2 linked regions of the Homo sapiens genome follow. The protein of the gene in region 2 purifies or fractionates together with the protein of the main gene of each other region. This does not show direct contact. Each region holds a gene or a part of one and is shown on either strand. Other genes may lie near its edges.

Region 1 (3,500 bases), on a different chromosome or scaffold from region 2:
CCATTTTATGTTAGTTTCTCAGGACAGATAGGTTCTAGACCACTCAGATGGTATAAATTTGAACTCTGAATTCAAGTGAGAGCAGGTCTAAGATTATAAATTCTCTAGGGATAATCCTCCTTTAACCCCTAATAGAGCCCGGGTCCTCTTATCTCCCTATATCAGGGAGGTGACTTTTTTCACTAGTTATCCTGGAGCTGTAGTTCTTCAATAATCCTTGCTTTAGATTGGGGACTGGAGTCTCATTTTCAACTTACCACCTCTATTGAGCCCAAACTCTTGCCTCTTATACCTGCATGATTGTTAGAACCCAAACTCCTTGGTTCTGGAGATCGGCAAGACCCTAAGAAGGACAGCTCAGTGGTAGTTTAAACTTACTATTATTTTTCATTTAGTTTTCTTTTCCTCTGGTTTTAGCTGGAATGTCACTTACTTTCTATGTGATCAACTATACATTTTAAGTGATTGTTACATTTTATTCAGTATTTTTAGCTGTTTTATAGTATTAGAGGTTTTCCAGGTTATCTGGTTTGCTGTAGTGGTGGAAATGGAAGTCTGTTGTTTGCCTTTTAATTTCGTAGGACTTATTGTTCATGAAAGCTGTTTAAAATACATTTATCAATCCATTCTCCTGTTTTAAAAATGAGAAAATTACATAAAAAAACTAAACCTTCCCCTTTCTCTATTTCCTTGGGGTATTATTATATGTTTGGTATATATCCCCAGTGAAATGGCTTTCAAAGAAACAAACCAGTCTTCATACCAACCTTAACATCTGGGGCATTTCTTTTACAGTGCAAAAGGATATGTTTTGTAGAAGCTGCCTGTTGGCTGGGTCGGGCCAACTCACACCTGAATTCCACTTACAAATATACTTTTGGGAGAAGAGATGTTGAAAATGGGTGTAGAGAGATTGTTTTAGTATATTGTGAAGCTCACCATTTATAGCAAGGCAGAGGGTTAATTTGTATCACTTTTAAGTCACAATAGCTCATAAGAGATAATCTTTAAAAAAAAAAATCTTAGGATTGTTTATTGCTTTGTTACCAAGATCTTCCACATATTATCTCAGAACAACACTGGGGAGAAATACGGTAGACATCATTATGCCCATTTTACCACTAAGTAAAACTGAGACTTAGTTTCCATTGTTAATGACTCTCCTGAGATTATGCAGGTTGCAGATGGTAATGATGTTATTATACCCTGCCATGAAAATTGAGGCTTCTTATATGTCTTTTTGCCATGCTGCCACTGGTGACATTCTTTATTAGGGCGAAATGAGGTATCAACTCAATATCGGCCATAAAGAACCAGTGTTTTCTTGCAGGTTTATTCAAGTCATTCATTCAACAGGTTTGAGCCCCTGCTATGATCCAGGCACCAGGAACAGATAGGAGCACTTTTCTATAACTGGGAGCTAACGTGCAGGTTTTACATTTGCTGACTGACATGCTTTCTACTTTCCTTTTGTAGATTGATGATGGTCTCCAGCTGTCAAAGAAGATTGTGGTTGCCAAGAGAAAGGTAACCATTTCTCATCCCCTTGAGTGGAATTGGATGCCTCTAGGAGCCCACATTGGCTGGCAGTAGACATGGCCGAATTTACAAGCTACAAGGAGACGGCCTCCAGCCGCCACTTGCGGTTTAAGCTACAGAGTCTAAGCCGCCGCCTTGATGAGTTGGAGGAAGCCACAAAAAACCTCCAGAAAGCAGAGGATGAACTCCTGGATCTCCAGGACAAGGTGATTCAGGCAGAAGGTAGCAACTCCAGCATGTTGGCGGAGATTGAAGTGCTGCGCCAGCGGGTGCTGAGAATTGAAGGCAAAGACGAGGAAATTAAGAGAGCAGAGGATCTGTGTCGTCTGATGAAGGAGAAACTTGAAGAGGAAGAAAACCTCACCCGGGAGCTGAAATCTGAGATTGAGCGGCTTCAGAAACGAATGGCTGAATTAGAGAAGCTAGAAGAGGCCTTCAGCAGGAGTAAGAATGACTGTACCCAGCTGTGTCTGAGCCTGAATGAGGAGAGAAATCTGACCAAGAAAATCTCCTCTGAGCTGGAAATGCTCAGAGTCAAAGTGAAAGAACTAGAATCTTCTGAGGACCGCCTGGATAAAACTGAGCAGAGTTTAGCGTCAGAGTTAGAAAAGCTGAAATCATTAACTCTGAGCTTTGTAAGTGAGAGAAAATACTTGAATGAAAAGGAGAAAGAAAATGAGAAATTGATAAAAGAACTCACTCAAAAACTAGAGCAGAACAAAAAAATGAACCGAGATTATACAAGGAATGCTTCTAATCTGGAAAGAAATGACCTACGGATTGAGGATGGCATCTCTTCCACACTGCCGTCCAAAGAATCAAGAAGGAAGGGTGGTCTGGACTACCTAAAGCAGGTAGAGAATGAAACAAGAAACAAATCAGAAAATGAAAAGAACCGCAATCAGGAAGACAACAAAGTCAAAGACCTTAACCAAGAGATTGAGAAACTTAAGACACAAATCAAACACTTTGAATCGTTGGAAGAAGAGCTTAAGAAAATGAAGTCCAAAAATAACGACCTTCAGGATAATTACCTAAGTGAACAAAATAAAAACAAATTATTAGCCAGCCAACTGGAGGAGATAAAGCTACAAATCAAGAAACAGAAAGAGTTAGAAAATGGAGAGGTAGAAGGGGAAGATGCTTTCCTGTCCAGCAAAGGCAGACATGAGAGGACTAAGTTTAGAGGCCACGGAAGTGAAGCTTCTGTGTCCAAGCACACAGCGCGGGAACTGTCTCCTCAGCATAAGCGGGAACGACTCCGGAACAGGGAGTTTGCTCTCAACAATGAAAACTATTCTCTGAGCAACAGGCAGGTTTCTTCTCCCAGTTTCACCAACAGGAGGGCAGCAAAAGCTTCTCACATGGGGGTGAGTACAGACAGTGGGACTCAGGAGACAAAGAAAACTGAAGACCGGTTTGTACCCGGCTCCTCCCAGAGCGAAGGGAAGAAGTCTAGGGAGCAGCCCTCAGTGCTGAGTCGCTACCCCCCGGCTGCTCAGGAGCACAGTAAAGCGTGGAAGGGGACTTCCAAGCCAGGCACCGAGAGCGGACTGAAGGGAAAAGTGGAGAAGACAACACGAACGTTTAGTGACACCACCCATGGATCTGTTCCCAGTGACCCATTGGGTAGAGCTGACAAGGCTTCTGACACCTCCTCTGAGACTGTCTTTGGCAAGAGGGGACACGTGCTTGGCAACGGAAGTCAAGTAACTCAGGCTGCAAACTCTGGCTGTTCTAAGGCCATTGGAGCCCTGGCCTCATCTCGAAGATCCTCCTCAGAAGGGCTCTCTAAAGGCAAAAAGGCTGCCAATGGCCTTGAGGCTGATAACAGTTGCCCGAATTCCAAGGCTCCTGTTCTATCGAAGTATCCTTATAGCTGTAGAAGCCAAGAGAACATCCTTCAGGGATTTTCAACCTCACATAAAGAAGGGGTTAATCAACCTGCAGCAGTTGTGATG
Region 2 (3,500 bases):
CTTCTAGAATTCCAATTAAATGTATGTTAGACCCTGCTCTATCTTTCATATCTCTATACTCTCTTCTGTGTTTTTCATCCTTTTGTCTATTTTTCCATGCTTTATTCTGAATAGTTCCTTCTAATCTACCTTCCAATTAACTAATTTTCTCTTTAGCTATATCTAATTTGCTGTAATTAATTACAGTTGCCATTTTTATCCTAAAATTTCTATTTCATATTTTTGTATCTGCCATGGTACTTCTTATGGCTTTTAATTCCCTGCTAACTATTTAAAGTTCTTATTTTATCCTGTGAATATGATATTCCTAGTTATTTTATTTTTAATTTTTATTATTTGTTAATCTTATGTTTTATTTACACTTCTTTTCTGTGACATGAGCACACACAGATTCATGTGTATACATATATGGCTCTGATACCTCTCCTTTCCTGTCCTCATTCAAACCACTGATCACAGAGAGAGGACTATTTTTTTTTATTTTTAATTTTTCTATTTCAATAGGTTTTTGGGGGAACAGGTGGTGTTTGGTTACATGAATAAGTTCTTTAGTGGTGATTTTGGTGCACCCATCACCCAAACAGTGTACATTGTACCCAATGTGTAATCTTTTAACCCTTGCCACACCCCACCCTTTCCCCGCAGTCCGCAAAGTCCCATGTATCATTCTTATGCCTTTGCTTCCTCATAGCTTAGCTCCCACATATGAGTGAGAACATACAATGTTTGGTTTTCCATTCCTGAGTTATTTAATTAAAATAATAGTATCCAATTCCATCCAGGTTGCTGTGAATGCCATTATTTTGTTCCTTTTTATGGTTGAGTAGTATTCCATGGTGTGTTTGTGTGTGTATAACATTTTTCTTTATCCACTCATTGATTGATGGGCATTTGGGCTGGTTCCATATTTTTGCAATTGCAAATTGTGCTGTTATAAACATGTGTGTGCAAGTATCTTTTTTGTATAATGACTTCTTTTCCTCTGGGTAGATACCTAGTAGTGGGATTGCTGGATCAAATGGTAGATCTACTTTTAGTTCTATAAGGAATCTCCACACTGTTTTCCATAGTGGTTGTATGAGTTTACATTCCCACCAATGGTGTAAAAGTGTTCCCTTTTCACCACATCCACACCAACATCTATTATTGTTTGATTTTTTATTATGACCATTCTTGCAGGAGTGAGGTGGTATCACATTGTGGTTTTGATTTGCATTTCCCTGATAATTAGGGATGTTGAGCATTTTTCCATATGCTTGTTGGTATTTGTTTTTTTTTTTTTTTTTTCATTATTATACTTTAAGTTTTAGGGTACATGTGCACAATGTGCAGGTTAGTTACATATGTATACATGTGCCATGCTGGTGTGCTGCACCCATTAACCCGTCATTTAGCATTAGGTATATCTCCTAATGCTATCCCTCCCCAATTCCCCCCACCCCGCTTGTTGGTATTTGTATATCTTCATTTGAGAATTCTCTGTTCATGTCCTTAGCCCACTTTTTGATGAGATTTTTTTTTTCTTGCTGATTCGTTTGAGTTCTTTGTAGATTCTGGATATTAGTTGGATGTATAGATTGTGAAGATTTTCTCCCATTCTGTGGGTTGTCTGTTAACTCTGCTAATTATTTCTTTTGCTTTGCAGAAGCTTTTTAGTTTAATTAAGTCCCATCTATTTATCTTTGTTTTTGTTGCATTTGCTTTTGGGTTCTTGGTCATGAAGTCTTTGCCTAAGCCAATGTGTAGGAGGGTTTTTCCAATATTATCTTCTAGAATCTTTATGGTTTCAGGTCTTAGATTTAAGTATTTGATCGATTTTGAGTTGAATTTTGTATAAGGGGAGAGAGAAGGATTCAGTTTCATTCTTCTACATGCAACTTGCCAATTATCCTAGGACCATTTGTTGAATAGGGTGTCCTTTCCCCATTTTATGTTTTTGTTTGGTTTGTCAAAGATCAGTTGGCTGTAAGTGTTTGGCTTTATTTCTGGGTTATCTATTCTGTTCCATTTGTCTACGTGACTATTTTTATACCAGTACCATGTTGTTTTGGTGACTATGGCCTTACAGTATAGTTTGAAGTCTGATAATGTAATGCCTCCAGATTTGTTCTTTTTACTTAGTCTTGCTTTGGCTATGTGAGCTCTTTTTTGGTGCCATATGAATTTTAGGATTGTTTTTTCTAGTTCTGTGAAGAATGATGGTGGTATTTTGATGGGAATTGCATTGAATTTGTAGATTGTTTTTGGGAGTATGGTCATTTTCACAATATTGATTCTACCCATTCATGAGCATGGGATGTGTTTCCATTTGTTTGTGTCATCTATGATTTTCTTTCAGCAATGTTTTGTAGTTTTCCTTGTAGAGTTCCTAGTTATTTTAAAGTCTGTGTTCGGTCTTTCAGCATTTAAAGTTTGTAGGTTTATTACTATTTCTCTTCTTTCTGTTGGTCATAACTCTTAGTGTTTTGTTTCCTTGTGTGCCTGGTTACATATGTGCTGGTCATTGTATTTGAAAATTATGTGTGAAATAATTTGAGGTTTTGGATTATGTATATTCCTCCAGAAAGAATTTCATTTGCTTCTGTGCATTTCTTAGGAACATTACAAGTCCTTCTTCTCAGTTAATTTTCGTAGTATCTTTATCAGATAGGTGCTATTACAACCACTCACTTAGCAGATGAAAATCATGAGGCTCTGAGAGTCTAAGTCATCTACTTAGAATTGGACAATGGTGAAGCCAGGATTCAAACCCACATCAATAAGAATCCAGCGCTCTTAACAAGGGGCCAGTACACTTTTTTAAAAAATAAAAGGCTAGATAGTAAATATTTTAGACTTTGTGGACTGCACAGCCTCTGTTGCAACTACTCAACCCTGCCTTTGTAGCATGAATGCAGTCATAAACTATACATAAATGAATGAGCCTGGATTCGTTCCAAGGAAACTTTATAAAAACAGGTGGCAGGCTGGATTTGGCCCATGAGAAGTGTAGTTTACACAAAAGTTGAGCAAACCAATTTTTTTCTGATTGTTTTTCCTCTTCTCAGTGTAAGAAGAAGCTTGGGAAGCTGCCACCTCAGTATGCCCTGGAGCTCCTGACGGTCTATGCTTGGGAGCGAGGGAGCATGAAAACACATTTCAACACAGCCCAGGGATTTCGGACGGTCTTGGAATTAGTCATAAACTACCAGCAACTCTGCATCTACTGGACAAAGTATTATGACTTTAAAAACCCCATTATTGAAAAGTACCTGAGAAGGCAGCTCACGAAACCCAGGTATGCTATCCCCACATGGCTTAGCTCCCCTATGTAAATGAACACCTGGATACAGGTACAGTGCCTTGGAAATGGAGGAGGTGGGAGGGCTCCCCACTTAGTGAGAATCTCCTGTTGCCCATCATTGTACTGGGCATTTTACTACTGCCATCTGTTTTAAACACCTACCTCCAACCCTGTGAGGCAGGCACTATGCCAATTATTTTACAGGTGAGTAAACTGA

Evidence for each region.
Region 1: the proteins of OAS1 (region 2) and LUZP1 purify together in Homo sapiens (co-immunoprecipitation; one large-scale study listed by IntAct). This does not show direct contact.

Annotation. Positions count from the first base shown.
Region 1 is NC_000001.11:23,092,357-23,095,856, reverse strand, and holds part of LUZP1 (leucine zipper protein 1), read left to right. Parts: intron 1-1,476; 5' UTR 1,477-1,595; coding exon 1,596-3,500.
Region 2 is NC_000012.12:112,913,462-112,916,961, forward strand, and holds part of OAS1 (2'-5'-oligoadenylate synthase 1), read left to right. Parts: intron 1-3,047; coding exon 3,048-3,277; intron 3,278-3,500.